Regions from separate parts of the Homo sapiens genome. Here regions 1 and 2 are each linked to region 3. The links come from fine-mapping of genetic effects on plasma protein levels. A gene starts in region 3. Each other region holds a variant in brackets. All regions are shown on one strand. Distances are from middle to middle.

Region 1 (11,720 bases), 25 kb after region 3:
AGTTATAATTGTATTAAAATATTTACATTGATATTTGGAGATGCATATATAAAACATTTCAGCTTTGGCTGAAAAAATGTTGCACTGAGGAACATAAACATTGTGTGGAGTTGAGGTATTTAGAAACCAAGAGGTATTCTATCAAGAAAATGTTAGCCAGAGATGCTGTCTGTAGAATGTGCATGTAATGTCTTAGGTGCTACTTGAAATTTATCATAGGGATGAGAAAAGTTTTCCAGTTGTATAATGCTTTTGGTGCATTCCTTCTTCAATTCCATCATTTTAAAGATTTTCAAAAGCTTATCATCTCTCTGCTGCCAACTTCCCACAGACCTTTCCTCAGACAATTAAATCCACACAAATCATCTTTTTCTAAAAGTCATTGACTACTCTAAGTGTGAAGAGCCCTCTTGTTTTATGGAGAGAGAAAATAATGTTCAGAGAAGAGTTGAGAGACAATTGTCTCACGTTTCTCCACTTCTTGCAAGCAGAGGCACTTACTGCCATTTTTTCTAGACTATCTTTCAAGAATGTTTGGGTAGTGAAAAACCTTTTTTTTTTTTGTTTGTTTTTTTGAGATGGAGTCTTGCTTTGTTATGCAGGCTGGAGTGCAGTGGCGCGATCTCGGCTCACTGCAACCTCCGCCCCCCAGGTTCAAGCGATTCTCCTGCCTCAGCCTCTCAAGTAGCTGGGATTACAGGCACGCTGTAATTTTTGTATTTTTAGTAGAGACGGGGTTTCACCATCTTGGCCAGGCTGGTCTTGAACTCCTGACCTCATGATCCACCTGCCTCGGCCTCCCAAAGTGTTGGGATTACAGGCGTGAGCCACCGCATCCAGCTGTGAAAAACCTTTAAAAGTAGAGACAGCATCTTCCTCCAGAGCAAAGGGTAGGTTTGCTTATAGTCTTGAAAGTTTCCATTCATAGTGAAGACAGGCATACTTACTCCCAGGTACAATAAAGAAGTCTCCCTCTGAAGCAAAGGGTAGGCTTGCTTGTTGCCCATTATAAGTGATTCAGGTTCGTTCCCTAAACTCTCATAATGTAATTACAGGGGCCATTTCTCCCCTGTAACATAACCCACTCAATGTGAAGGCATCTATCTGGCCCATCGATGTCACCTCCATGAGACTTAGAGTAAGGGAACCTAGGGTGAGTGTGCTGCTGCTTGTTCTGCTTACTGTACCATGAGTAATAAAAGTCCTTTGTCTTTTGCCAATCTCAAACTGTGGAAGTCTACCTTACCTTGCAAGTAGGGTAAAAATCTCAGAACCTTTATAATTCTTGACATGAAGTTAAATGATTTTTGCTTGCAGCACATTGGAAGAAAACAACAACCTCAGCTTTCTTTTTCTCTCTCTCTTTTTTTTTTTTGAAATGGAGTCTTGCTCTGTCACCCCAGCTGGAATGCAGTGGCACATCTCAGCTCACTGCAACCTCTGCCTCCCGGGTTGAAGCGATTCTCCTGCCTCAGCCTCCCAAGTAGCTGGGATTACAGGTGCCTGCCACTGTGCCTGGCTAATTTTTGTATTTTCAGTAGAGATGGGGTTTTGCCATATTGGCCAGGCTGGTCTCGAACTCCTGACCTCATGATCCGCCCACCTCGGCCTCCCAAAGTCCTGGGATTACAGGTGTGAGCCACTGTACCCGGCCCAGGAACAGCTCAGCTTTCTAAGAATGTCTCCCCAAAGAAAACCTGAAGGTAAAACAAATGTCCTTCCAAACATTTGCAAACATCAAATACTGTGGAGTTCAAGAGGATCACAGATTCGGGAATCTTGTAAGAAAATAAGTATGGAAGAAAATCAACCAGAGCACTACTAAAATTTGGGGTTATACAGTCAGAGTTTTTATTAGCCTATCCTCAACAACACTTACAAAAATAAATTTTAGGATTTTTGTTTGTTTCTTTAAGAATTTATCTATATTTCTAAAGCCATCTTCGTAACAACTTTTAAAATGCTGACCATTTAATAGTTGGAATCTTTGAACATTTTGAGTATAAAGTGCCAGAGAATACAATTATAGGTTATTTAACTATGGGGATATGTTCTAAAAAACGCATCCTTAGGTGATTTCATTTTCACGTGAACATCAAAGACTGTACTTACACAAACCTAGATGGGATAGCTACAAAGCGTCAGTAGCATAAGACTTTATTTGAAAATGTTCTGGCTGGGCGCGGTGACTCACGCCTGTAATCCCAGCACTTTGGGTGGCCGAGGCGGGTGGATCACGAGATCAGGAGATCGAGACCATCCTGACTAACACGGTGAAACCCCGTCTCTACTAAAAACACAAAAAATTAGCCGGGCGTGGTGGCAGGTGCCTGTCGTCCCAGCTACTCGGGAGGCTGAGGCAGAAGAATGGAGTGAACCCGGGAGGCGGAGCTTGCAGTGAGCACTCCAGCCTGGGCGACAGAGCAAAACTCCGTCTCAAAAAAAAAAAAAAAAAGAAAAAAAGAAAAGAAAATGTTCTTGGCCTAAGAAGAGTCCCAAGGGCCATTCTGACTTGGGGCAGGAAGGTGAAATGTTTTATGGGGCTTTAGCAAGGGTACTTCAGCCACCATCAAGGATAGAGGGACTGTTCCTGAGGATTAGCAGTCATAAATTGAGTAATTTGAATTTAATCAAAAGATATGAAGATAAATCGTTAGGGGATGAAGTATTATGCAAGTGGGGATTAGTTGGAGGAGGGGGACATTAGCTGAAAGGGCATGAACATGAAAGTCCAGAGGAAATGTCTTAGGTATGAAGCCTTTTGATTCTTTCATGTGGGAAATAGAGTAATTGTTCCCCTTATACAAGTTTGAGTGAGGTTCATCGCAGAGGAGCATGAATTATTTGCCATGCTGTGCTATGCAGAATTATGACCCCCATGACCCTTGATGTTATGTAATGTGTGCCCTATGAATGTGAGCAGAACCTGTAAATAGGATGAGATTGAAAAACCACAACTATGTTATATTACATGGAAAAAGGGATTCTTGAAGATACAATGAAGGTTACTAATTCATTGACCTTGTATCAATAAGAAAGCAGGTTTTGGGAGATTCCTGGAGGGGCCCAGTCTAATCACGTGAGCCATTTGAAAGCAGATAATTTTCTCTGACTGGCAGCATAAGGGGAAGTCAAGAAATTCAAAGGCCAAAAAGAATTCACTGTCCTGTTGCTAGCTTAGAAGATGGAGAGGTTCTTGTACCAAGGAATCTAGCTGAGACTGGCACCTAAGCTGATAGCCA[G/A]CAAGGAAGTGGGAACCTCAGTGCTACAACTCTACAACTACAAGGAACTGAATTCAGTCAATAATCTGAATGAGAGTGAAAGTTTGTCACACAGCCAAGTTAAACTAATAAACTGACTTTACAGGGGAAAAACATATATGGGGATTAGTCTGGAATCCTCTTGTGAGTTATAATTACCTTCTCCAAAGATCAAAGACCTGGTTCCTCTAAAATTTTAATGAACAGATCTTAACCTATCTTCTGGTGCATTATAAGGCTATTTTAATCTATGCTAAGGAGACAACATGAAGGAAAATTCTTAGGTCTGGCCCTATTGTGTTCTTTAATTGGCTAAGTAGAGAAAATGCCAATGTTGAAAAGAACCAATAGGAAATTCTACTGGATGGTAGGATCAGAAGGCAAGCCAGCAAATCCAGTAAGGGAGATTCTCAGAAAGAACCTGGAGCTCCTTTTGCAAAAGATAGAGAGTGATCTTGATGGTTTTAAAAGTGTGCTCAACAGAGGAAGGAAAGCATAGGCTTTTCAGCTACTTGTGGGACAGTCCAAATTGAAATGCATGAATGGTTTGAGAAGTACATAAAGGTTATAACAGGGTGATGCAGGCAGTGGTCTTGTCAGGAAATGGACAGTGCAGAAGGACTGACCATACATGGACTGACAGAACCTGCAAGTGGAGGGTGCTCAGAGACCAAAACAAACAAACAACAACAACAACAGCAACAACAACAGTATATTAGACTACGAAGGAGAAAAAAAGAAGAATTGAGTTTTAGCTCTGCTTTCTTCCATAGTACAGTATTGGAAAAGTCAATTAAGTTACCAATATTTTAAACTCTATTTGCCCCACTGCTCCAAACAGGGATGCTCCATAACCATTCAGCAGCTCCCTTCTCCCTGTGTCTCAAAGACGGCCCTACTCCAGGTTCTCACTCTCTCTGCCTCTACTACTGCTGGCCTAGCCTGCATAACAGCTGCCAAGATTCCTGGAAGGTCTCAGCTGCTTGCTGGATCTTCAGGGCTGCAGGATAGGACATCTGGTTTCTGCTGAGCAAGGGCAAGGTCTGCCTTGAACTTGGAAAGGTTTCCAGTTTAGGGGAAGGGACTTCATCTGTGGCCATTCCCAGGATATGCCAGGAAGAGCTCCTCTTGATGCCAGAACCTCTTACTGTCAATGCCCTCTGTAGAACCGCTGTCTCTCACTCCTTGCTCCACCCCGGCTTAAATACTGTGGCTCTTCTCTCAGATCCTGTTATACATCTCTACCATTACCTAGCCTGAAAAGCCACCTCAGATTCAGCCAACAAGTAAGTGGGCATTACAGGAGAAGGGTACCTTTCACAAGGGCTGTAATCTAAAATCTTGGGGAAGATACAGCGTCATCTGTCCAAGAGGTGTCAGCAGTAACGAAGCCTCAGTAGAAGCCAAAGTTATTTTGGATTACTGAGCCTGTATAGTTTCCAGATTCTCAAGAGAAATATATGGGAATGTAGATATCTCAGAGGACCTTCCTGCTGTCAGGAATTCAGAGGAGGAAATAAGGAAGGTAATAGGTGCTCTGCTCTCATTCTCTCAAACCCTCTTCCCTGTGTTTTCCTATAGAGATTGCTGATTTGCTCCTTAAGCAAGAGATTCACTGCTGCTCAGCATGGCTCAGACCAACTCATGCTTCATGCTGATCTCCTGCCTGATGTTCCTGTCTCTGAGCCAAGGTGAGATTGTTTTCCCCACACATACCTCCCACAACCCCAGCCCTGAAGCCCTCACTCTATCCTCATGCATATGAGTTCACTTGAGAAAAAGCAGAGTCAAGTTCAGGGGTTGTCTTGTGTTGTTCAGTGATATTTATTGCTGATCTCATCCCATTCAAAAACATCCTGACCTCCCTAAGGAGTTAGAGATGGAACTTAGCATAACCCTTTATCAGTGACCACTGCAGTTGGCATTGGTTTGTCATATTAACACTACTCATGATGGGGGGGTTGAGGATGTCTGTTTGTAGACAGTCATTAGTGGAATGGGGAACTGAGGGGAGCTTTGTGTGTAGAGAAACTGGACAGGCTTGAGAAAGAAGCCTCAGTCCTTCAAGGAAGAAAAAGCCATAAGTAAAAGGGACAATGGGGACACTTTTCATGAGCCTATTCATTGTGTGCTCTTGTCTTGAGCAAAGACATCTTGAGAGCCTATAGGTAAGATGCAGAAGGGCAGAAGTGACCAATCGCTTCGTGACCTATAGGATCCTTCTATTCCTATAAAGAATCCTCAGAAGCTCCTACCTCATATTTTAGCCTTTACCTTGCCCTGAGGGTCTTTCTTAATTGTCTCTCTTTTCCCAGGACAGGAGGCCCATGCTGAGTTGCCCAAGGCCCAGATCAGCTGCCCAGAAGGCACCAGTGCCTAAGGCTCCCACTGCTACTACTTTAATGAAGAGCATGAGACCTGGGTTTATGCAGATGTGAGTGAGGAGAGCAGTGTGGGAAGGGAGGCTCACGAAGGGAGGGGAAGCTGCCACTCTCCAGTGTGTTCAGTGGCTGATATGAGATGAGACTAATCCCCTCCCTATCCAATCATCAGCCCAAAACTTTCCAATCTACTTTATCCCATCATTCAGCACAGAGATGCTGGTGGTCAGTGACAGCATCATCAGGGACATTTCTGTGCTGTCCTTTTTCTGTTACATCCTCTGGGAGGGCTCAATATGTCTCCCACACTTTCCTCCTTCACTGAGTGCTCCATTTTCTTCTCCAACAGCTCTACTGCCAGAACATGAATTCAGGTAACCTGGTGTCTGTGCTCACCCAGGCTGAGGGTGCCTTTGTGGCTTCGCTGATTAAAGAGAGTGGCACCAAGGATAGCAATGTCTGGATTGGCCTCCATGACCCCCACCGGATCAGTCTGCTGCATCTTCTACCTCCTGATTATCAGGTTCCAGAGGGTCTGATGTCTGGCACCTCAAGCATCAGTTTTTACTATATTATGATAAAAGCAACCTCTCTATAAATCATATAATGTAAAGGATATCAAGGTTCTCCATAGGTTCTTCGAGATAAGCTTAAAGCTGAATTTCCTGTGTGTTTCAGGCATTCACAGATAAACTCATTCTCTGTACTTCTAGGGTAGCATCTTTATGTATCTATTATGTACCTCTTATCTATTGTGTTATCATCTCTGTTATAGAAGAGCCTTCTGTAGACCATATAGAAAAAGATTATAGAGGAGGAGAATCTACTGCTGGCAATTGGGAACCGCAAGGTATACTAAATAATATATCAACAACTAATGGCCATCTAATGCTATGCTGGATATGAACTTTTGGGGCCTCAGGAAAGAAAAACCAGGAACTAGTTTCAATAATGAGGTGTCATGGTTCCCTGTGGCAAATTTAGAACACTTATCGTTTGGCAGGACACAGAGAGGTAGGTGAACATTCCAGGAAAGAAGCAGCTTAGAGAAAATGTGGAGGAAATAATATGACACTTAGAGAAAAAGGAAGGTTTATTCTTGTCTTATGTCTTGACCTGTTTCTGAGTGCGAACACAAACCAGGTGTTTCTGTCTCTTTCTGAGTCACGTCTGCCCCTGTTCTGGCCCTTCCCCATCTAGAACTGCCATTATCAGTGGAGTAGTGGGTCCCTGGTCTCCTACAAATCCTGGGACATTGGATCCCCAAGCTGTGCCAATACTGCCTACTGTGCTAGCCTGACTTCAAGCTCAGGTGAGAGGCACAGAATCCACACACTTATTGCCATCCTCTCCTATTTATCTCTGAGGATCGACCGGGGACTGGGATAGAGGAAGGGTGAGCTCCTCATTCAGGAAATAGAGGAGTGTTTCCTCTTTATTTTTGCTGAGTCCTGCAGCCAGGAGGGTAATACACTCTGATCCCCTCAGTCTGAATCTTCTCATTGTCTTATAGGATTCAAGAAATGGAAGGATGATTCTTGTAAGGAGAAGTTCTCCTTTGTTTGCAAGTTCAAATACTGGAGGCAATTGTAAAATGGACGTCTAGAATTGGTCTACCAGTTACTATGGAGTAAAAGAATTAAACTGGACCATCTCTCTCCATATCAATCTGGACCATCTCTCCTCTGCTAAATTTGCATGACTGATCTTTAGTATCTTTACCTACCTCAATTTCTGGAGCCCTAAACAATAAAAATAAACATGTTTCCCCCATAGTGCTGTCTTCTGTGTCTGCTATTTCCCCACCTAATGCCTGGGTAGTTGGGATGGCAGTGATTGTAGCACTCTAGAAGTTGCTTCGGCCCATTCACTTTTAAAAACTTTGTCCACATATCATGCATGTTGGACTCAAGGGTTTATGAACATATGGTGGCCTTGCTTATGACAATGTTAAGAAGATAAGGATTTCACTCACCACCCACATATTTCCATGGACCCAGTGTCAGAGAAATTATTACTGTTGATTTACAAGTGACTGGAGTGTTTGGTACTCTAAAGAGGTTCACATACCTGTGACCTGAGGAAGGCACATCTGTGCTTTGTTATACAAGTTGAAGCTATGACTGAAGTGATAATTTGAGAATTGTCAGGTCTACAGTGTTGAATGCATTGGTGTTGGAATGACTAGAGGCTTGGTGGCCAGCAATGTTGGTTAAATGGCACTCCTGGAATGAACGGCTAAATGAATAATAAATTAGATTAATAAAATACTCAGGCATAGTTATTTAATAATCCTATCTTCATATACAGTCAAATTCTGAAGTACTGATGTTAGGACTTTAATGAATTAATTTTGTGGGAACACCATTCAGCCCATAACACCAACAGCATCAATAATACTATTACCTGGGATTTAATAAAACAATGCAATCAAAAGGCACATATTGTTAGTCTGAATTAAAACAACAACAAAATCTATTTATGAGCTATGAATAAATTGACTTAGATTCACAGACACTGTGGAGATGAAAGTGACTCCATCTTGGGTGCTAATCTGCCATGTTGACTTTTGATTAGCCCCAGTCGTGGGAATGCTTCCTGATTCCTACATTATTTACTGTCCTTAGGGTAAGAACATATACTTACTAGAAATCTTGCCTTTAGAAAAAAACAATCTTGAGGTCTTTGCACAAATGATAGGCTATAGTGAACATAGCATTCTTGTCTGTTTGGAAGGGTTGCCTCTAATTGTCTGTATAGAGCACGTGCACTCTTTCCCTGCGGTACATAAGCCCTGGGGCCAGGGAGTAACAGTGTGGAGATCTCCCTGTCGGTGGCCGCCAAGACCACACTTCTGTCTGTATGTTCCCCAGCAAATCACCCTTTACTGACAAACTGGACTCTTCTGCCTCAGTCTTTAGTTTCTTGGCTCCTTTCGTGTTTGGTGGTTGCTTTGCATATATGGTCATTTATGAAACAACTGGGGAGTCAGTCAATAGGGGTCCAGGAACCAAAGTTTGGGCAAAAGGCAGGAAACATACGTGGAGGAAATCCTGGCAGGCTCCCCTCATCTATGTGGGGTGGTGTTGGCTACTTGCTAGATGCCTGTGGACCATCATGTGAGTACAGAGATGCCCTGAAAATGCTGGAGGGTCTAGAATGCTTGTTAGTAGAACATCTTACAGCTCACTGGGGTAAGGAAGTTCACCAGGTGGCTGAGACAGAGGGTTGGCCACTGTTACGGATTGTGGGAATGGCCACAGAAGTGTAGTTAGCAGCTAAGATGAAGGTACTAAGACTAGAGGAAGAATTACCATTAGAAAAGGATATGTGGACCTCCACGTCCATGTTTGCATCTAGTCTGGCAGATAAGCTCAAAACTCAGGATACTCACCTGGAACCCCTAGCCTGCTGCTTTATATGGTTAGATGGGAGAGAGCTGTGTTGGCCAAAAGTGCAAGCTGTTCTTCCTAAATTGGACTGGAACGCTAAGACTTGTTGTCCTTAGGAACCAAATAGTGAGTGAGATGAAGACATACCTCAGGAGGAGGAGGATAATTATCCTTCCCTTTTGAGAGCAAGACCTCTCATGCAATGGAAAACAAAAGCCCAACGCCTGCAGCCAGCTGGTAATGGACAACCTTTTCAGGAAAACTTCAATGTCCAAAATTACACCTTGGCAGAATTATTGAACATAGCAAAAACTTTCAAAGAGCAGCCAATAGAAAGCTGAGCCACATGGATGATGCAGCGAAGAAAACCTAGCGTGAATGGCATTTCCTTAGCAGAAAGTGAAGCTGATACAATGAGTACTGTAACCACCCAATCTGCTTTGAGACAGCATTGCATAGTGCTGGAACTGCTGAGAGCAAGCACAGTCTTATAGACCAGATTATCCTGGCTGTGACAGAGGCTTGGCCAAATGAAGGGGACTTTCCGGGTCAAACTCTGGTAAGGTGAACTCTGGAGGAAACAAGGACCAATTTAAAGGAGTTGGTCATGCTCAGGCCATCTATGCCCAGCAATTTGCAGGACCAAATAAGGCCGTGTTTACCATAGGCAAAAATATATATATATATATAATAATAATAAGTTGTTGCAAGCTGCCCCGTCCCCACCACCCCTGGAATTGCTATGGTTCTTTCCTATGCCTCTTAAGCCCTCTTCTGGGACAAGATATATATTACATGAGGAAGCTGTAGCTAATCTTGGAAAAAATGAAAAGGAAAGAGATAAGGTCTGTCTGTTTGCTAAAAAAAAAAAAAAAAAAAAGGTGGGGGAGGGGGTGGAGAAGAAGAAGCCAAGTCTGCCAGACTAAAAAAGGGAGGAATGAATGGCCTAGTTAGGATTACCAGGAAGCAGATATGGTATGATCTGATCTCAGCTGGAGAAGACAAAAAATAGATCAGAAACACAATGCCGTATTAGTGGGCCTTTGGAAAAACCTGGCACCTGATCAACATGTTAGACTACTTCCTAGTGCCCCACCATAATAGAGAGTAGACGAGGAAACTTCACATAAAAGAACCCCAATCTCTGCATTCCAGGGGCAACTCCTCCCCAGCCTAGAGACTGTTGCCTCCTCCTGCCAGCAACAGGGGGCAAACAGGCCCCATGTGGATCTCACAATCTATTGAAGTCCAAAAAACAAGCAGAAAGGCTTAGCCTTAGTAGACATAGGTGAAAAATGCACCATAATTCATGGAAACCCAAAGAGACATCCTGGTAAGTGAGCAGCTGTGGATGGTTAAGGGGAGCGAACAATTTGAGTGAAACAAACTCCTTTCCTCATTTGTATTGGACAGAGTACCCCCACTTATTATATGTTTGTATCTCATTTATTCCATAAAACATCTTCCGTAAGGATGTCCATTTAGAATGCACTTTACAAATGTCTGTGAGGGACTTAGCCCATGAGTTTGGGTGGTAAAAGCTATTTTAAGAGGGGAAGCAAAATGGGAAGGGGTACACCTTCCTCCTCCACTGTGTTTATTAATGTGAAACAATACCATCTTTCTTGTGAGATAAAAGAAATGACAGGCACCATGCAGGAGCTGGCCAAAGTTAATGTTATATGGCCATTCCACAGTCCTTTCTAGAGTCCTGTACGGCCAGTAAGAAAACCTGATGGCACCTGGAACGTGAGAGTAGACTACCAGGAACTAAATAAGATGGTTCTAGAGATACACATCACTATACCTAACATAATCTAAGTGATAGAGCAAATAATACCAAAATAGCGCTTTGCACCCTGACTCAGGGAACCAATTTGCCTTTACTTGGAACAGCAAACAATGGACATTCCAAGTGTTGCCCCAGAGTTTTTTCCACGGCCCCACTATTTGTCATGGAGTGATTGCTAGAGATTTAACTTTGTGTTCACTGCCACCTGCTGTTAAACAGTTTCATTATAACAATGATATTATGCCAACTTCTGAAGACTCGCTATTGCTACAGCAGCACCTCCATGCATTGTGCACTCTTCTCCAATCCAGAGGATGGGCCATCAATTCACAAATGATACAAGGACCACGATTGGCTGAGCAGTTCCTAGGGGCACTTGGTTGGGTAAGACATGCCTTATCCCAGGGACAATCATTCATAAAATACAGTTTGCCATGCCTAAAGCATTTAAACAGTTGCAAAGTTCCCTAGGTCTTTTGGAATATTGGCAGGCTTTCATTACACTTTTAGCGCAACGTTTTCATGCTCTATACTGACTAGTGAAGAAGGGATCTAGTTGTTGCTGGGATAAAGAACAAGAAGACGCATTTGAGAAGGCTAAAATATTAGTGGCTCAGGCACAAGCCTTAGGTCATCTCTTCCCAGGGTGCCAATGTCTTTGAATGCGAACATAAGGCCTGAGGGGATCAGTTGGGTAGAAGAGTTGTGTCCCAGGCCTGTATCAGCTATTCTCTAAGCCTCCACTTTACAAAAGTGGCATGTATCCCTGCAACAACATAGTGCCTTCTCCGTGAGTCCCTTGGGAATGAACTGCATGCTATCTTAGAGCCAGTGCTATATATGGGGCCAGTGCTATCGATGGGACCAGTGCTGCCCTTATTGAGGAGCCTCCACA
Region 2 (10,265 bases), 14 kb after region 3:
CAAGCCAGAAGAGATTGGGGCCCTATATTCAGCATTCTTAAGGCAAAGAAATCCTAAACAAGAATTTCATATCCAGGAAAACTAAGCTTCATAAGCTAAGGAGAAATAAGATCCTTTTCAGATAATCAAATGCTAAAGGAATTTATTACCTCCAGACCTGCCTTACAAAATAACCTAAAAAGAGTGCTAAATACAGAAAGGAGTGACCATTACTGGCTACTACAAAAACATACTTAAGTACATAGACCAGTGACACTATAAAGCAACCACACAAACAAGTCTTCATAATAACTAGCTAACAACATGATGACAGGATCAAATCTGCATACATCAATACTAACCTTGAATGTAAATGGGCTAAATGCCCCAATTAAAAGGTACAGAGTGGCAAGTTGGAAAACAAGCATGACATAATGGTATGCCCCTCTCATATGCAATGACCCATCTCACATGCAATGACACTACTAGACTCAAAGTAAAGGGATGGAGAAAAATCTACCATGCAAACAAAAAACAGAAAAAAAAAGCCAGGTTTGCTATACCAATTTCAGACAAAACAGACTGTAAACCAAGAGATTTTTGAAAGACAAGGGCATTATGCAGTGGTAAAGGGCTCCATTCAAATGAAGACCTAACTATCCTAAATATATACATACCCAATACAGGAGCACCCAGATTTATAAAGCAAGTTCTTAGAGACCTACAAAGAGAATTAGATAACCACACAATCAGAGTAGAGACTTCAATACTCCACTGGCAGTATTAGACAGATCATCGAAGCAGAAAACTAACGATGATATTCAGGACCTGAACTCAACACTTGACCATATCTAGTAGACATCTACAGAACTCCTCACTCTCAAACAATAGAATACACATTTTTCTCATTGGCACATAGCACATTCTCTAAAATTGACCACACAATTGAGCATAAAACAATCCTCAGCAAGCTCAAAAAAACAACAACATAAAAACAAAAACAGAAATCATACCAACCACACTCTTTGATCGACCACAGTGCAATAACAATAGAAATCCCTACTAAAAAATCACCTGAAACCATACAATTACATGGAAATTAAACAGCCTGCTCCTGAATGACTTTGAGGTAAATAATGAAATTAAGGTAGGCATAAAGAAATTCTTTGAAATGAATGAGAACAAAGATGCAACATATCAGAACCTCCCACACACAGCTAAAGCAGTGTTAAGAGGGAAGTTTATAGCACTAAACACCCACATCAAGAAGTTAGACAGATCTCAAGTTAACAATCTAACATCACACTTAGAGGAATTAGACAAGTGAGAACAAACCAACTCCAAAGCTAGCAGATACAAGAAATAACCAAAATCCGACCTGAGCTGAAGGAAACTGAGATGTGAAAATCATACAGAAGATCAACAAATCCATGAATATGTCATTTAAAAGAATAAATATGACTGATACAACACTGGCTAGACTGACACAGAAAAAAGATAAGATCCAAATAAACACAATCAGAAATGACAAAGGGGACATTACCACTGACACCACAGGAAAAACAAGCAAACAAGCAAACAAACAAACAAAAACCCTCGACGACTACTTTGAACACCACTGTGCATACAAGTTGAAAGACCTAGAAGAAACGGTTTAATTCTTGGAAGCATATAACCTCCCAAGATTGAACCAGGAAGAAATTGAATCCCTGAACAGACCAATAATGAGTTCTGAAATTAAATCATTAATAAAATACCTACCAACCAGAGAAAGCCCAGGGCAGGATAGATTTTCTGCCAAATTCTGTGAGATGTATAAAGAAGAGCAGAAGACACCATTCTTACTAAAACTATTCCAAAAAATTGAGGAGGGGAGACTCCTTCCTAACTCATTCTATGAGGCCAACATTGTCCTGATATGAAAATCTGACAAAGACACAACAACAACAAAAAATCCAACTTCAGGCCAATATCCTTGATGAACATTGATGCAAAAATCCTTAACAAAATACTAGCCAACTAAATCCAGCAACACACCAAAAAGCCACAATCAACTAGGCTTTAGAATGTGAGGTTGGTTCAACATATCTAAATCAATAAATTGATTTATCACATAAACAGAACCAAAAACAAAAAACACATCATCATATCTATATATGCAGGAAAGGCTTTAGACAAAATTAAACATCTCTTTGTGTTTAAACCCTAAACAAAGTAGGCATTGAAGGAATATCCTTTAGAACCTTAAGCGCCATCTATGACAAACCCATAGAAAACATCGTACTGAATGGACAAAAACTGGATGCATTCCCCTTGAAAACTGAAATAAGACAAGAAAGTCCTCTCTCCCCATTTCTATTCTACATATTACTGAAAGTCCTGGCCAAAACAATCAGGCAATAGAAGGAAATAAATGGCATCCAGATAGGGTGAGAGAAAGTCAAACTATCCCTGTTTGCATATGATACTATTCTATATCTAGAAAACCCCATTATCTCAGCCCAAAAGCTCCTTCAGCTGATGAACAACTTCAGCAAAGTTTCAGGATACAAAATCAATGAAAGAAAATCACTAGGATTCCTATATAACAACAATATCCCAGCAGAGAGACAAATCAAGAACACAATCCCATTCACAATAGTTATAAGAAGAATAAAATGCCTAAGAATACAGATAAGCAGGGCGACAAAAGAACTCTACAAGGAGAATTATCAAACACTGCTCAAAAAAATCAGAGATGACACAAACAAATGAAAAAACATTCCAGGCTCATTGATAGGAAAAATCAATATTGTTAAAATGGCCATACTGCCCAAGGCAATTTATAGATTTAATGTTATTCATAAGAAACTACCGGAAACTTTCTTCACAGAATTAGAAAAACTATTTTAAACTTTATATGGAACAAAAAAGCCCGAATAGTCAAGGCATTCCTAAGCAAAAAGGACAAAGCTGAAGGCATCACATTGCCCAACTTCAAATTATACTAGAAGGCTACAGTAACCCAAACTGCATGGTACTAGTACAAAAAGAGACAGATAGACCAAAGGAACAGAATAGAAATCCCAGAAATAATGCTACATACCTACAAACATCTGATCTTCAACAAAGTTGACAAAAATAAGCAGTGGGAAAAGGACTTCCTATTCAATAAATGGTGCTGGGATAACTGGATAGTCATATGTAGATGATTGAAACTGGACCCCTTCTTTATACTATTTTAAAAGGTAAACTCAAGATGGATTAAAGAGTCAAATGTAAAACTATAAAATCCTGGAAGATAACCTAGGAAATGCCCTTCTGGACATAGGATCTTGCAAAGATTTCATGATGAAGATGCCAAAAGCAATTGCAACAAAAACAAAAATTGACAAATGGGATCTAATTAAAGAAAAGAGCTTCTAAACAACAAAAGAAATTATCAAAAGAGTAAACAGACAACCTACAGAATGGGAGAAAACATTTGCAAACTATGCATCTGACATAGTTTGGTCTAATATCCAGAATCTACAAAAATCTTAAATTAGCAAGCAAAAACTGAACAACTGCATTAAAACGTGTGCAAAGGACATGAACAGACACTTTTCGAAAGAAGATATACACACAGCCAAGAAGCATATAAATATGCTCAAAATCACTAATCATCAGATAAATGAAAATTAATACCACAGTGAGATGCCATCTCACACCAGTCAGCATGGCTGTTTTTAAAAAGTCAAAAAATAACAGATGCTAGCAAGGTTGCAGAGAATAGGCTATGTTTATACACTTCTGGTAGGAATGTAAATTAGTTCAGCCACTGTGGAAAGCAGTTTGGAAATTTATCAGATAAGTTAAAACAGAACTACTATTTGACCCAGCAATGCTATTATGGGGCATATACCAAAAGGAATATAAATCATTCTAACATAAAGATATATGCATATATATGTTCATTACACTGTTATTCACATAGCAAAGACATGGAATCAACCTAAATGCCCATCAACAGTAGGCTAAATAAAGCGAATGTGGTACATATACACAGTGGAATACTACATAGCCATAAAAAACAATAAAATCATGTTTGCAGCAACATGGATGGAGCTGGAGGCCATGATCCTCCACCAACTAACACAGGAACAGAAAACCAAATACTGTATGTTATCACTTATAAGTGAGAGCTAAAGTTTGACTACAGATGGCCACCAAGAAGAAGAAAACACACACTGGAACCTACTTGAGGATGAGGGGTGAAATGAGAGCAAGGACTGGAAAAGCACCTATTGGATATTAAGCTTATTACCTGGATGAAAAAATAATCTATACACCAAACCACTGTGACATACAATTTACCTATATAACAGACTGGCACATGTACTCTTGAACCTGAAATAAAAGATTTTAAAAAAAGAAAGAAAAAAATGGTTGTGAAAAACTTCCCATAACTGGTGAGAAAAAGGAACATCTACATCCATGAAGTACAAAAAACTCCACATACATTAAATATAAAGACATCTTCACTGAGACACATTACAATCAAATTCCAAAAAGTCAGGGATGAAAAGAAAATTTTCAATGCAGCGAAAGAAAAATAACATATTATGTGCAAGCGAATGTCTATAAGATTATCAGTTGATTTTTCAGAAGGTACCTTTCAGGGCAGGAGAGAGTGGGATAATATATTCAACATACTCAATGAAAAAACAAAACAAAACAAAACCCTGCAAACCAAGAACACTATACCTGGCAATCCTATCCTTCAGAAACGATGAAAAGAGAGGAAGTTTACCAGAAAAACAAAAGCTGAGAGAGTTCATTAACACTAGACCTTCTTTATGTAAAAGACTAAAAGAATTTCTTCAAGATGGAAGATAAAAATGCTAGCTGATACCATAAAAACACAGGAAAGTATAAAGTATAAATTGACTATGTTAAGTACATAGTAAAATTTGAAATACTCTAACATTGTAGTGATGGTTGGTAAATCACTTAAATCTTTAGCATAAAAGACAAAACTATTAAAAACAACAGTAACTACAATAATTGTTAAGGAATATGCAATAAAGAAACATGTAAATTGTGACACCAATAACAAGAATGTGCAAACAACAGCAAAAGTGTAAAATATTTTTATGTGATCAAGTTATCTTTTTAAAATAGTCTATTATAAATATATTTTTGTAAGCTTTATGGTAACCACAAAGCAAAGACCTATAATAGATAAATAATAAGAAGCAAGCAACCAAAGTATACCACAAGAGAAAATTATCTAGTCAAAAAGAAGAGAGAAAGAGAGGAAGAAAGAAACAAAGGACCTACAAAACAACCAGGGAACAATGAACAAAATGGCAGTAGTAAGTAATTACTTATTAATGATTATTCAAAAAGTAAATGAGTAAAATTCTCCAGTCAAATGGTATAGAGTGATCAAATGAATTTAAAAAAATACCAACACACAACTTAATGTTCCTACAAGAAACTTACTTTAGCTTTAAGAACACACATAGGCTGCATGTGAAAGAATTAAGATATTTCATGCAAATGATACCAAAATAAAACAGTGGTAGCTATAGTTATATTACATAAAATAGACTTTAAGTTAAAAACTTTAAAGAGAGGCAAAGGTCATTATATAATAATAAAGAAGTCAATTCAGCAAGAGGATATAATAATTTTAAATATGTGTGTACACATCATTGGAGCCCATAAATATATAAAGCAAATATCAATAGATCTGAAGAGAGAGAAAAATTGTAATACAATATTTGTTGGATAATTCAGTACCCACTTTCAACAATGGGCAGGTCATTCAGACAGAAAAAAATTCAATAAACAGCGGACTTGAACTACACTTCAGACAAATGGACCTGACAGACATACAGAACATTTCTTCCAACAAGAGCATAATAAACATTCTTCTCAAGTGCACATGGGACATGCTTCTGGAGAGATCATATATTTGGCCATAAACATAGGCTCAACAAATTTTAAACGACTGAAATCATATCAAGTATAATTTTCACCCAAAATAGTACAATACTAGAAATCAATAAAAAGAGAAAGATTGGAAAATATTCAAATATGTAGAAATTAAATGACATTATCCTAAGCAACCAGTGGACCAGAGAAGAAATTAAAAGTGAGATTAGTGGTGGGATCCAGCAGTCCCACTACTGGGTATCCAGCCACATACAAAAATGATTATATATCAAAAAAACACCAGCATGCATGTGTTTATTGTAGCATAATTCACAATTGCAAAGATATGTGCCCATCAACCAAAGATGGATAAAGAAAATGTAGCATACATATATATACATATACATATACAGACACACACAGACATATACCATATATATATACACACACACACATATATACCATGGAATAATGGTAATTGACTAGCCATAAAAAAGAACAAAATAATGTATTTTGCAGAAACTTGGTTGGAACTGGAGGCTGTCACTCTAGGTGAAGTAACTCAGGAATGAAAAACCAAATATTGCATGTTCTCACTTAAAATTGGGAGCCAAGCTGTGGGAACCCAAAGGCACACAGAGTGATAAAATAAACATTGGAGACTCAGGGTGGGGAGGGGAATGAGTGATGAAAAACTACCCATTGAGTACACTACTCGAGGTAGAGTACTGGAGTGATGCGTGCACTAAAATCTTAGACTTCACCACTATATAATTCATCCATGTAAGCGAAAGCCAATTGTACCACTAAAGCTACTGAAATAAAAAATTAAATTAGTATTAGAAAAATATTTTGAGACAAATGAAAACGAATATACAACATACTAAACTTATGGTATGTAGCAAAAGCAGTCCTAAAAGGGAATTTTATAGCAATAAATGCTTACATTAAAAATAAAGATCTCAAATAAACAACTTGACTGTACACCTTGAGAAACTAGAAGAAAAAATAAGCCAATATTTTGTAGAAGTAAAGAAATAATAAAGATTAGAGCAGAAATAAAT[G/A]AAATAAAGACTAGAAAAAGAATAGAAAAGATCGAGAATGAGAGTTGTTTTTTTTTGAAAAGGTGAATTAAATTAACAAACTTTTAGCCAGACTAAGAAAATAGAAGACCCAAATAAAATGAAGATGAGAAAGGAGACATTACAACTTAAACCACAGAAATTCAAAGGATCATTAAAGAGTATTATAAGCAACTAAGTATCTTATTGATACATATTGGAAAACCTAGAATAAATTGATAGATTTCTAGACACAGAACCAAACAAGATTGAACCATGGAGAAATCTAAAATATACATAGATCAATGGCAAGTAATAAGATGTAATTAGTAATAAAAAGTCTTCCATCAAAGGAAAGCCCAGAATGGGACGGCTTCAAGTCTGAATTCTATTTAAAGAATTAATACCAATCTTTCTCAAACTCTTCCAAAAAATTAACTAGGAGGGAATACTTCTAAACTCATTTTATGAGACCAGTATTACTCTGACACCAAAGCCAGAGAAAGACACTACAAGAAAATAAAACTAAAGACAAATATCCTTGATGAAATAAGATGCAAAAATCCTCAACAAAATACTAGTAAACTATTTTCAACAGCACATTAAAATGATCAAGTGGGATTCATCCCTGGGATGCAAGAATGGTTCAACATATGCAAATCAATAAATAATTTGCAACATTTATTGATTATTACTAAATAATAATAAATTACATTTATTATTGTTACTAAAATGAAGGACAAAAAAGATTATCCAATAGATGCAGAAAAAGCAATTGACAACATTCAGCCTTATTTTATATTTAAAAAAAACTGTCAGAAAATTAGATATAAAAGGAACGTACTGGCCGGATGCAGTGGCTCATGCCTGTAATCCCAGCACTTTGGGAGGCCGAGGGGGGCAGATCACCTGAGATCAGGGTTCAAGACCAGCCTGGCCAACAGGGTGAAACTCTGTCTCTACTAAAAATACAAAAAATAGCCGGCCCTGGTGGCAGGCTCCTGTAATCCCAGTTACTTAGGAGGCTGAGGCAGGATAATCGGTTGAACCCAGGAGGCAAAGTTTTCAGTGAGCTGAGATTGCGCCATTGCACTCCAGCCTGAGTGACAAGAGTGAAACTCTGTCTTAAAATAAAGGAATGTACCTCAACGCAATAAAGACCATATGCAACAAGCCTCCAGCTCTCAACATACTCAATGGTGAAAAGTCAGTTTTCCCTCTAAGATCTGGAACAAGACAAGCATGCCCACTCTCACCACTTCTCTTCAACATAGCACTCAAAGTCCTACCCAGAGCAATTAGACAAGAGAAACAAGCAAAAGCATTGAAACTGGAAAGGAAGAAGTTACATTCTCTCTTTTTGTGAATGACATGATCTTACATTTAGAAAACCCTACAGACTACATTAAAAAATACTATTAGAAGTAATAAAATAATTTGATAAGGTTTCAGGTTACTAAATAAACATACAAAAATTAGTAGCATTTTTACACTAACCATAAACTCTCCTAAAGGAAATCAAGAAAACAACCATATTTCCAGTAACTACAAAAATACTTAGGAATAAATTTAACCAAAGAAGTAAAAGATCAGTGCAATAAAAATAATAAAACTGGTATCAAAGAAATTGAATAAAACACAAATAAATGAAACTTATCCCATGTTCATAGACTGGATAAGTTAATATTGTTAAAGTCTTCATACTACCCAAAGCAATCTACAGTTTCAATGCAATTCCTGTTGAATTTCTAATAACATTTTTCACAAAAGTAGGAAAAATAATCTTAAAATTGAGATAGACCCACAAAAGACCCCAGATATTCACAGCAATCTTGAGCCAAAAGAATAATGCTGGAAACATCATACAACCTGATTTCAAAATATACTACAAAACTATATTAATCAAGACAGCATTGTAGTAGCATAAAAACAAATCCATAGACCAATGGAGCAAAATAGCCCAGAAATAAATTCACATATTTACAGTCAATGGAGTTTTTAAAGATGCCAAGAATAGATAATGTTGATAAACAGTTTCTTCAATAAATGGTGTTGTGAAAGCTTAACGTGCATACATAAAATAATAAAATTAGACGCTTATCTCATACTGTACAGAAAAATAAACTCAAAATGGGTAAAGACTTGAACATAAGACTGGGAACTCTAAAACTACTACAAGAAAACTTAGGGGGAAATGTCACAACATTGTCCATGTTATGACTGTATGACAAAATCAACTGGAAAATCATTTTTTGGTTATAATAGAAAAAACGCAAGGGTAAAAAAGCAGAAAGAGACAAATGAGATTGTATCAAAATAAAAACTTCTGCACAGGAAAGGGAACAAATATTAGAGTGAAGGGACTACCTACAGAATGGGAGAAAATATTTACAAAGCATACATATGATAAGGGGTTAATATTCAAACTGTATGAGGAACTTAATAACTGGCAAAAAAATACCCCAATTTAAAAAATGGTCAAAGGACCTGAACAAACTTTTCTCCAAAGAAGATACAAATATCTAGAGGTATATGAGGAAAACGGCTTAACATCAGTTATCACTAGGAAAATTCAAATTAAAACCTCAGTGTCATCTCACCTCATACCGTTTACAATGGCTGTAATTAAAAATAAAAGGTAACAGTTGTTGGCAAGAATGCAGGGGAAAGGGGATATTTGTATAGTACTGGTGGTAATGTAAATTGCTATAGCAATTATTCAAAACACTATGGAGATTCCTCAAAAGATTAGAAAAGAATTACTGTATAATCCGGTGATTCCATTTCTGGGGAGATATCCAAAAGAAATGACATCCAATCCCAGCACTTTGGGAGGCCGAGGCGGGCGGATCGTGAGGTCAAGAGATCGAGACCATCCTGGCTAACATGGTGAAACCCCGTCTCTACTAAAAGCCCAAAAAATTACCAGGGCGTGGTGGCGGGCACCTGTAGTCCCAGCTACTCGGGAGGCTGAGGCGGGAGAATGGTGTGAACCCTGGAGGCGGAGCTTGCAGTGAGCCGAGATTGCGCCACTGCACTCCAGCCTGGGCAACAGAGCGAGACTCCTTCTCAAAAAAAGAGAAACGACATCCATATGTCAAGTGATATCTTCACTCCCATGTTCACTTAAACCTTACAATAGTTGAGATGGAGTCAAATTCGGTGTCAATCAACAGATGAATGGATAAAGAAAAGTATATACATACAAAGTGGAGTGTTATTCAGCCTTAAAAATAGAGGAAGTCCTGTCATTTGTGACAACATGAATTAACCTGGAGGATGTTATATTAAGTGAAATAATCCAAGCACAGAAAGACAAATACT
Region 3 (11,029 bases):
ATAAGGACCCCCCTTCAACCCAAATAGTCCAAAAGGAGATAGACAAAAGGGTAAACAATGAATCAAAGAGTGCCAATATTCTCCGATTATGCCCACTCCAAACAGTGGGAGGAGGAGAATTCGGCCCAGCCAGAGTGCATGTACCATTTTCTCTCTCAGTCTTAAAGCAAATTGAAATAGACCTAGGTAAATTCTCAGCTAACCCTGATGGCTATATTGATGTTTTACAAGGGTTAGGACAATCCTTTGATCTGACATGGAGAGATATAATGTTACTGTTAAATCAGACACTAACCCCAAATGAGAGAAGTGCCGCCATAACTGCAGCCCGAGAGTTTGGCGATCTCTGGTATCTCAGTCAGGTCCATCATAGGATGAAAACAGAGGAAAGAGAACGATTCCCCACAGGCCAGCAGGCAGTTCCCAGTGTAGACCCTCATAGGGACACAGAATCAGAACATGGAGAATGGTGCAGCAGACATTTGCTAACTTGCGTGCTAGAAGGACTAAGGAAAACTAGGAAGAAGCCTATGAATTATTCAATGATGTCCAGTATAACAAAGGGAAAGGAAGAAAATCCTACTGCCTTTCTGGAAAGACTAAGGGAGGCATTGAGGAGGAAAACCTGTCTGTCACCTGACTCTTTTGAAGGCCAACTAATCTTAAAGGAAAAGTTTATCACTCAGTCAGCTGCAGACATTAGAAAAAAACTTCAAAAGTCAGCCTTAGGCCTGGAGCAAAACTTAGAAACCCTACTGAACTTGGCAACCTCGGTTTTTTTATAATAGAGATCAGGAGGAGCAGGCGGAATGGGACAAACGGGATAAAAAAAAGGCCACCGCTTTAGTTATAGCCCTCAGGCAAGTGGACTTTGGAGGCTCTGGAAAAGGGAAATGCTGAGCAAATTGGGTGCCTAATAGGGCTTGCTTCCAGTGCAGTCTACAAGGACATTTTAAAAAAGATTATCCAAGTACAAATAAGCCACCCCCTCGTCCATGCCCGTTATATCAAGGGAATCACTGGAAGGCCCAGGGCCCCGGGGGATGAAGGTCCTCTGAGTCAGAAGCCACTAACCAGATGATCCAACAGCAGGACTGAGGGTTCCCGGGGCAAGCACCAGCCCATGCCATCACCCTCATAGAGCCCTGGGTATGCTTGACCTTTGAGGGCCAGGAGGTTAACTGTCTCCTGGACACTGGCACGGCCTTCTCAGTCTTACTGTTCTGTCCTGGACAACTGTCCTCCAGATCTGTCACTATCCGAGGGGTCCTAGGACAGCCAGTCACTAGATACTTCTCCCAGGCACTAAGTTATGACTGGGGAACTTTACTCATTTCACATGCTTTTCTAATTATGCCTGAAAGCCCCACTCCCTTGTTAGTGAGAGAAATTCTAGCAAAAGCAGGGGCCATTACACACCTGAACATAGGAGAAGGAACACCCGTTTGTTGTCCCCTGCTTGAGGAAGGAATTAATCCTGAAGTCTGGGCAACAGAAGGACAGTATGGATGAGCAAAGAATGCCATCCTGTTCAAGTTAAACTAAAGGATTCTGCCTCCTTTCCCTACCAAAGGCAGTACCCCTTAGACCCAAGGCCCAACAAGGACTCCAAAAGATTGTTAAGGACCGAAAAGCCCAAGGCCTAGTAAAACCATGCAATAGCCCTTGCAATATTCCAATTTTAGGAGTACAGAAACCCAGTGGACAGTGGAGGTTAGTGCAAGATCTCAGGATTATCGATTAGGCTGTTGTTCCTCTATATCCAGCTGTACCTAACCCTTATACCCTGCTTTCCCAAATACCAGAGGAAGCAGAGTGGTTTACAGTCCTGGACCTTAAGGATGTCTTTTTCTGCATCCCTGTACATTCTGACTCTCAATTTTTATTTGCCTTTGAAGATCCTTCGAACCCAATGTCTCAACTCACCTGGACTGTTTTACCCCAGGGGTTCAGAGATAGCCCCCATCTATTTGGCCAGGCATTAGCCCAAGACTTGAGCCAATTCTCATACCTGGACACTCTTGTCCTTTGGTACATGGATGATTTACTTTTAGCCACCCATTCAGAAGCCTTGTGCCATCAAGCCACCCAAGCACTCTTAAATTTCCTCGCTACCTGTGGCTACAAGATTCCAAACCAAAGGCTCAGCTCTGCTCACAGAAGTTTAAATACTTAGGGCTAAAATTATCCAAAGGTACCAGGGCCCTCAGTGGGGAACATATGCAGCCTATACTGGCTTGTCCTCATCCCAAAACCCTAAGCAACTAAGAGGGTTCCTTGGCATAACAGGTTTCTGCCAAATATGGATTCCCAGGTATGGCAAAATAGCCAGATCATTATATACACTAATTAAGGAAACTCAGAAAGCCAATACCCATTTAGTAAGGTGGACACCTGAAGCACAAGCAGCTTTCCAGGCTCTAAAGAAGGCTCTAACCCAAGTTCCAGTGTTACGCTTGCCAAAGGGGCAAGATTTTTCTTTAAATGTCACAGAAAAAAACAGAAATAGCTCTAGGAGTCCTTACACAGGTCCGAGGGATGAACTTGCCAACTGTGGCATACCTGAGTAAGGAAATTGATGCAGTGGCAAAGGGTTGGCCTCATTGTTTATGGGTAGTGGCAGCGGTAGCAGTCTTAGTATCTGAAGCAGTTAAAATAATACATGGAAGAGATCTTACTGTGTGGACATCTCATGATGTGAACGGCATACTCACTGCTAAAGGAGACTTGTGGCTGTCAGACGATCGTTTACTTAAACATCAGGCTCTATTACTTGAAGGGCCTGTGCTGCAACTGCGCGCCTTTGCAACTCTTAACCCAGCCACATTTCTTCCAGACAATGAAGAAAAGATAGAACATAACTGTCAACAAGTAATTGCTCAAACCTACCCCGCTCGAGGGGACCTTTTAGAGGTTCCCTTGACTGATTCCGACCTTAACTTGTATACTGATGGAAGTTCCTTTGTAGAAAAAGGACCTTGAAAAGTGGTCAGGGATAATGGAATACTTGAAAATAATCCCCTCACTCCAGGAACTAGTGCTCAGCCGGCATAACTAATAGCCCTCACTCGAGCACTAGAATTAGGAGAAGGAAAAAGGGTAAATATACATATAGACTCTAAGTATGCTTACCTAGTCCTCCATGCCCATGCAGCAATATGGAGAGAAAGGGAATTCCTAACTTCTGAGGGAAAACCTATCAACCATCAGGAAGCCATTAGGAGATTATTATTGGCTGTACAGAAACCCAAAGAGGTGGCAGTCTTACACTGCTAGGGTCATCAGAGAAGAAAGGAAAGGGAAATAGAAGGGAACCACCAAGCAGATATTGAAGCCAAAAGAGCTGCAAGACAGGACCCTCCATCAGAAATGCTTATAGAGGGACCCCTAGTGTGGGGTAACCCCCTCCAGGAAACCAAGCCCCAGTACTCAGCAGGATGAATAGAATGGGGAACCTCATGAGGACATACTTTCCTCCCCTGAGGATGGCTAGCCACCAAAGAAGGAAAAATACTTTTGCCTGCAGCTAACCAATGGAAATTACTTAAAACCCTTCACCAAAACTTTCACTTAGACATTGATAGCACCCATCAGATGGCCAAATTATTATTTACTGGACCAGGCCTTTTCAAAACTATCAAGCAGATAGTCAGGGCCTGTGAAGTGTGCCAAAGAAATAACCCCTGCACTGCAGGCCATACCTTTCAATCCCTGTACCTTTAACCTCCTTGTTAAGTTTGTCTCTTCCAGAATCGAAGCTGTAAAACTACAAATGGTTCTTCAAATGGAGCCCCAGATGCAGTCCATGACTAAGATCTACTGCAGACCCCTGGACTGGCCTGCTAGCCTCATGCTCCAATGTTAATGACATTGAAGGCAACTCTCCCGAGGAAATCTCAACTGCACAACCCCTACTACACCCCAGTTCAGCAGGAAGCAGTTAGAGCAATCATTGGCCAACCTCCCCAACAGCACTTGGGTTTTCCTGTTGAGAGGGGGGACTGAGAGCAGGACTAGCTGGATTTCCTAGGCTGACTAAGAATCCCTAAGCCTAGCTGGGAAGGTGACTGCACCCACCTTTAAACACGGGGCTTGCAACTTAGTTCACACCTGACCAATCAAGTAGTAAAGAGAGCTCACTAAAATGCTAATTAGGCAAAAACAGGAGGTAAAGAAATAGCCAATCATCTATCACCTGAGAGCACAGCGTGGGGGACAATGATCAGGATATAAACCCAGGCATTTGAGCCAGCAATGGCTACCCTCTTTGGGTCCCCTCCCTTTGTATGGGAGCTCTGTTTACACTCTATTAAACCTTGCAACTGCAAAATATATATATATATATGAAAAATAATTATAAAATTGGTAATGGAGAAGCATGGAAATAAGTGGGACTGAGGAATAACATAAATGGACTACTATTTATTTATCATTTTATTAATATTATTTTTTAAAATAATATTAATTATTATTATTTATAATTTTATTATATTTATCATTTTATTAATGATATTATTTATTATATCATTTATTATTTATCATTTTATTAATCATTAATATTAATGTATTATTTATCATTTTATTAATATTAATTTGATTGTATTACTTCTTTTTGCTTCATTTCTCTAAAAAATAAAGCTAAAAAAGATGGCAAGATATTATCGCTGTAGATTCTAGATGGTCAACCTATACTTGTTTGTTAAATGTTTTCTGTATGATAAAGATAATTTATTACAAAAAGAAAAGCAACATGACTATGGAATTATTTCTTATTTTTATTTTTATTTGCTACCACAAGAAATGTGAACTCTGATACATTGTGAACAGTTCAGATCTGCAAAATTATCACCCACAAGCTGTTTGAGTATGATTTATGGTAATTAATTGAAAACATTATCTTAATTTTTTCCCAAATGAACATTTTGTATTATAACTAGCTTATTCTAAAAGAAAAATCAATAAAAAGCAATAGCCTTTTTAAAATACCCAAATAGATAACGTTAGAAGAGCAAACATGATATGAACAGGGAACTCTTCCAAGATCAATGTGAAAATTTGAAACCAAATAAATATTAACACAGTTTTCTGATAAAAATTATTGCCTCCAATAACTGCACAGGTCATATGATAGTTACTGTTCATGGCTTACGTATAATTGACCAAATTTCAGTAGCTATGTTATCAGCTTTCCAGTTCTTTGATGTTAATAACTTCCCTCATTGGCCTCAGGGGCTTTGAAGTTTTGTCCCTTTTTCCTGTTTTATAGTTGCTCAGCACCTAATCTTATCCCTTTCCCAATTCTTCTGACAGTGTTAGGATAAGATGAAAGGACCAAAGTGGCATTCTGGACATCTGGTTAATATATCTCAAAGGGGTGCACTTTAGTGATAAATCTCCAGTGAGATACAGTTCAAGGCTATTTTTGACATGGACCCTGCTGAGCCATCTTCCAGGAAACCTCTACATTTTACCATCCTTGAAACAAATATATTAGGCTCCTGCAAAGAGATCAGTTTTCACTTTTATAATTCTAAGAATGACTACTAAGTCTTATCTGCAAATATCTGATTCAGAAGATAATAGGGATAAAAGTACAAATTGGACATCTTTTGGCAAAGGAAGCTCCTTAAAACTCAGCCTTGGTTACATCAAGAATAAGAATTCCTGTGTCATCCCTAAGAAGTAGATTTTTATATAACTCAAAACCAGCTCAAGAAATATAATATTTAAACAAACTTCTCAGTGCTTGGTTAATAAGCATTGTTATGAAGAAACAATGAAAAATAAAACAAAAACAACTCAACTTTAGTGAGTTTAGTGAGTGTCATTGCAAAGAAAATTTCACATTGCACTTAGGGATTTTATAACCTTAAGGCTTATTACAAAGGTCACACTATTTCAATTAAGAACAAAAGTGAGTTTTAATAATAAACTGTCAGCATTTCAAATCTTCTCTCCTAGGTATCTTGAAATATACAACATATTGTTGTTAACTATAGTCACCCTATGTGCTATCAAAAGCTAGAACATATTCCTCCTATCTAGCTGTATGTTTGTACGATGAACTAAACTCTTTTCATCTCCCCTCACCCGTCTCAGCCTCTGGTAACTATTCTACCCTCTGGTTACCTTCTACCCCGTACCTCCATGTGTTTACATATTGTTGTATAAATTTTGTGGAAAAAAATCCTTTTTAACAAAATAATCTGCTGGCTATATTTCTTCTCATATTATTTGAGGAATTGCATTGAATTTTGGGTACTGAATTTTGAGGACGTGAATTAAGGATGAGCTACATCTCATGACCTCGTCACAGACCCCTACTATAAACATCTGCATACAAGTTGGCATATTACAACAATAGCATGAGAGTCAGGGTCTGTAGAAATTCCCAGCCTAACTTTTTCCTGGACTGGCCAAACTGAACCTGAACCAGTGTATGGGCAATGTAGTATGCTTGTCAGAGGCACCAAACTGCTAACTCAAAAATAAACATGACTAAAAGAACTTCTCCCAGTATACCCATATGAAGCTGACCATTTGCCCAGTAAGAATGCAATGAAAAGGGCTTTTAATGTACAGCCAAATGGCAGTCCAGCAAGGAAGCTCATGAGCAACCTACAAGTAGTGAGCATTTTGATGTAATAGAGACTTACATGCAATTCAGAATTATGTTTACAACATCACAAAACAAAAATTTAGAGATAGGCTCTCACTCTGTTGCCTAAGCTGGAGTGCAGTGGGATGATCATAACTTACTGCAGCCTTGAACTCCTGGGTTCAACTGAAGGTCCTCCTACCTCAGCCTGCTGAGTAGCTAGGACCACAAGCACACACCACCGCAACTGGCTTAAATTAAAATATAAATTGTAGAGATAGGGTCTTAATGTGTTGCCCAGGCTGCTCTTGAACTCCTTGCTTCAGGTGATCCTCCCACCTCAGCCTCTCAAAGTGCTGGGATTATAGACCTGAGCCACAGCACCTGGCCAACTGACCTATGATTTTACACAATGGCTGCTCTTCCCTTCTTTAACTATTATTCATTCTTCTTTGATCCTCATTATTTGACTGTAGTCCTTCTTATGTCTTGTTTTCCTTCATTACCTCTTATTCTATCACATTGCCATTGTCATTCTCCACTGGGGAAGCTCTTTCTTGCTGAAGACTGGAAAGACAAGTCCATTCACCTGATTTTCTGTAAGATTGTGGCTCATGTATTGACTTGTCAGACAATTCTGAAGTTTCATCAAAATTAGCTATCATGCTTGCATAATGGCCCTGAACCCTCACTCCTACTCTTAGCTTCAGTACCATCTATGTCCTCAACTGTCCATGATACTTATAATTCCCGTAAATCTTCACTTAACACCTAACATTTATTTAATCTTACTAGGCAAGGTAATAAGAAATACATAGGTTTGCCTCCAGAAGTGGGTTCTTAAGAAACCCACCAGAGGAACTCCTCTTTCAGATGTCCACATTAGAAGATTTCATATCACATTTGGTGCCACAGGCCTTTGACAAGGAGGATGCAGAGGAAAAAGCAAACTTCACCTCTTCCTAGGGAAAGTGTTGGCCTGCCAACAGGAAAGAGGCAACATCTGGGAAAATCCCCAGTCTTTGCCAGGAAGAGTCCATGCCAACCCCACCCCATGACCCCTGTCCTGCCTACTCATTGTCACTCTTCACTCCAATGTCCCTCCCCCAGATCCTCTTATAAAATCCCACTCTTTCCTGACCAGACAAACCATACCATATCCCACCAGAGAGGTAAGTGGGAGCTGAGAGAAGATGAGACCCAGGGAGGAGCTACTGCACATGACACAGGAGAATACATGGGAGGGTCCCTTCCTCAGGGAGCACAGGAACTCTGAGACTCAGCAAGGGTGTCCTGGGAGGGCTCGGGGATGGGAGAGTACACAGATTCACAACTCATTCAGAACTGTAGAAGATGATGGATGTGACCAAGATCACTTTAGTCCTAGGGGACTAGAGAAGGAAAATGACATGAGGCAGTGGGGTATCTGTGTGTTCTCCCACTGACCACGCTTTCTTTAGTGACTCCTGATTGCCTCCTCAAGTCGCAGACACTATGCTGCCTCCCATGGCCCTGCCCAGTGTATCTTGGATGCTGCTTTCCTGCCTCATGCTGCTGTCTCAGGTTCAAGGTGAGATTGCTTTGCCTCTAGCACTGGGTTCCCTATGAATCCTCAGAGCTAACAAGAGGAGGAAGGCTCCTGTGTGTCATGTGAGGTAATGACGTGGTGTCTAATGAACCTGCCTGCAGTTCTTGCATCATCTCTCCTTCCTTCAGGTTAACTTGCAGTGGGAGGCTCCATGGTGGTCCACTAACAGTGGAATGAGATGGCTTCCATTTAGTCAGTGGACTCTAATATACACTGGTGGGAAAGTGGACTCTAATATACACTGGAGGGTCAGTAATGAGATGTGGGGAGGGACAATGATTGGAGGACCCAATGTAGAGACAGCCCAGAGTGAGGAGAGTATTGAATGGTTGAATAAGGGGAAAGGGTAATAAGAGACTGGATGGTGCTCCATTTACTACGGCTATTTTGAGATAAAGAATTTCTGAAAACATAAGGGAAGATGAAGGGGTGTCAGGAATGTGGTCTTCCTCCCCAAGGACATTCCTAGGTATTCCCCAAGGTCATCTCCCACCCCAAGCCCCACTCTTCATTTTACCCTCCCCCCTCTTCTTCCACCTCAGGTGAAGAACCCCAGAGGGAACTGCCCTCTGCACGGATCCGCTGTCCCAAAGGCTCCAAGGCCTATGGCTCCCACTGCTATGCCTTGTTTTTGTCACCAAAATCCTGGACAGATGCAGATGTGAGTGGTTAGATGTGGTGTTGGAGGTGACCGGTCTCAGGGGGAGGAGGGTCTCCATTCAGGAGAGTTCCTTGGGAATGAGGATGAACACGTTTATCTTTCACACAGTCCTCCTCCCACCTACCTTTGCCCTGCCCTCCCTCAGCAGGTCTCAGGCTCCCTCTCATTCTCTTTGTTGCCCTCAAAGCTGGCCTGCCAGAAGCGGCCCTCTGGAAACCTGGTGTCTGTGCTCAGTGGGGCTGAGGGATCCTTCGTGTCCTCCCTGGTGAAGAGCATTGGTAACAGCTACTCATACGTCTGGATTGGGCTCCATGACCCCACACAGGTGCCAGTATATCCTCCCCTCTCTGTTACCTCTCAAGGTGCTATTGTTGCCCAGGCCCACTCCCTGTCCCCTGTGCCTGCCCAGGAAGTACTTCAGGGAGCACTGGAGCTCAGATTCTGGGGAATATTTGGGGGGAAAGGGAAGGCCATGAAGCATCTGAAGATCTGAGTTCTGTGGAGGTCTCTATCTTTCAGATAAAATCAATCTGCCTTCCTCAGGCGTATTACATAATTCTCATATGAGGCTGGGTTAACAATTCTCTGAGCTTCATGGAGTCTTTGCCTACTATTCTGAAGGAACTCTTAATGAAGATAGGATCAATTTTTGTCCCCATACAGAACTGACATTACTTTTGAGGTTCACAAGCTAATCACAAATGCTACATCAATTATTGTTCTGCAAATAATATATTACCTTGAGTTGTTCCAAAGGTCTTATGTTTATTGGCTGGAATTTTCCAATAGCAATGAGGAGTCAAGGAAGAGTTTCCTACTCACCGGCAGCATCTGGAATAGCAGACCAACTTTCCTCATGCTGGGGAGCAAATCAGGTGTTGCAGCTAAGGGGCCATGCAAGAAGAGCTGCAATGGCCATTCCCTTCACCTGGCTACCTCCTCTACTCTACAGGGCACCGAGCCCAATGGAGAAGGTTGGGAGTGGAGTAGCAGTGATGTGATGAATTACTTTGCATGGGAGAGAAATCCCTCCACCATCTCAAGCCCCGGCCACTGTGCGAGCCTGTCGAGAAGCACAGGTAAGAAACAGAGGAGCTGCCTCTTCCCAGTGTTTTCCATCTCATCCCCCATTCCTGGGTCTGACCTTCAGGAAATCTTCCTGAGCTAGAAAATACAATGTTAGTGTGTCTTCTCTTATCTCCTCTCTTCTCCACTTTCTTTGAATCTCTCTCCTGGATTGGGACACTGGTGAAGGTGAGGGAGAGGCTTTAACTTCTAGGCTAAAACCTGGGATGCCCCTTCATTGGATTCACAAGCTTCCTCAGCCCCATTCCATTTATGTCTTCTGTCTCTCCAGCATTTCTGAGGTGGAAAGATTATAACTGTAATGTGAGGTTACCCTATGTCTGCAAGTTCACTGACTAGTGCAGGAGGGAAGTCAGCAGCCTGTGTTTGGTGTGCAACTCATCATGGGCATGAGACCAGTGTGAGGACTCACCCTGGAAGAGAATATTCGCTTAATTCCCCCAACCTGACCACCTCATTCTTATCTTTCTTCTGTTTCTTCCTCCCCGCTGTCATTTCAGTCTCTTCATTTTGTCATACGGCCTAAGGCTTTAAAGAGCAATAAAATTTTTAGTCTGCACTTGTTTGTCTTGTATATGCCAGTGTCATAGCCATACTCTGAGAAGGACAAAGTGTTTGAGTGGAGGAAACTTTATGGGTCTTGCTTCTTCCCTATTCACCCAGGCCTCTAGGGAAAATGATGAAGTGTGCATCCCTACCAGTGTGTTATGATGAGGGTGTGGGTCCTGCTCATGTAGGATTTGTGTTGTGGAGAGATGAGGACATTTCTCTCCCGCGTACTTACTGCCCTCCCATTCCCGTAGCCCAAACCTGACAGTGTGACATGAACAGATTTAGGAGGCTCTGATGGTGCTTAGAATAGTACTTCTCAGAGAATGGCATCAGCAGGATGGTAGATAGGACTTTCCAGCTCTTGAACCTTCACAGAAACATTCATTTGAACTACTACCCATTAAAATGGAAATACCTTCACAAGAGCTAACAATCCCAAGTGAGTGATTAAAGCATCTGAATGTTGCAAAAAATAAGAAAGGATGCATCGAAGAGGGTAGAAAGAAGACTTTTACATTATTTATATCACCCCTCCATCAATCTC

Alleles and levels. Alleles are on the strand shown, and positions count from the first base shown. The strength of an association depends on the size of the effect and on how common the allele is.
With allele A in place of G in region 1, the plasma level of the protein whose gene starts at base 7,745 in region 3 is higher (moderate association).
With allele A in place of G in region 2, the plasma level of the protein whose gene starts at base 7,745 in region 3 is higher (moderate association).

Evidence for each region. PIP is the chance, under the fine-mapping model, that this variant and not a neighbour inherited with it causes the effect. Protein levels are from antibody-based Olink assays in UK Biobank. Linkage for the fine-mapping came from a reference panel and not from the study's own genotypes, which makes the PIPs less certain.
Region 1: its variant is fine-mapped to the plasma level of the REG3A protein (UK Biobank, PIP above 0.99).
Region 2: its variant is fine-mapped to the plasma level of the REG3A protein (UK Biobank, PIP above 0.99).

Annotation. Positions count from the first base shown.
Region 1 is chr2:79,131,198-79,142,917 of GRCh38, reverse strand. It overlaps the pseudogene REG1CP. Among named protein-coding and RNA genes, the nearest start is that of REG1A, 17 kb to the right of the region's middle. The variant G/A (reference allele first, on the strand shown) is at 3,243.
Region 2 is chr2:79,143,213-79,153,477 of GRCh38, reverse strand. No RefSeq gene overlaps it. Among named protein-coding and RNA genes, the nearest start is that of REG3A, 11 kb to the left of the region's middle. The variant G/A (reference allele first, on the strand shown) is at 6,945.
Region 3 is chr2:79,156,469-79,167,497 of GRCh38, reverse strand. It overlaps REG3A (regenerating family member 3 alpha), which reads left to right and starts at 7,745. Exons shown (of 6, transcript NM_002580.3): 1 at 7,745-7,770; 2 at 8,059-8,168; 3 at 8,729-8,847; 4 at 9,035-9,172; 5 at 9,800-9,926; 6 at 10,205-10,492. The coding sequence starts at 8,093. The coding sequence ends at 10,272.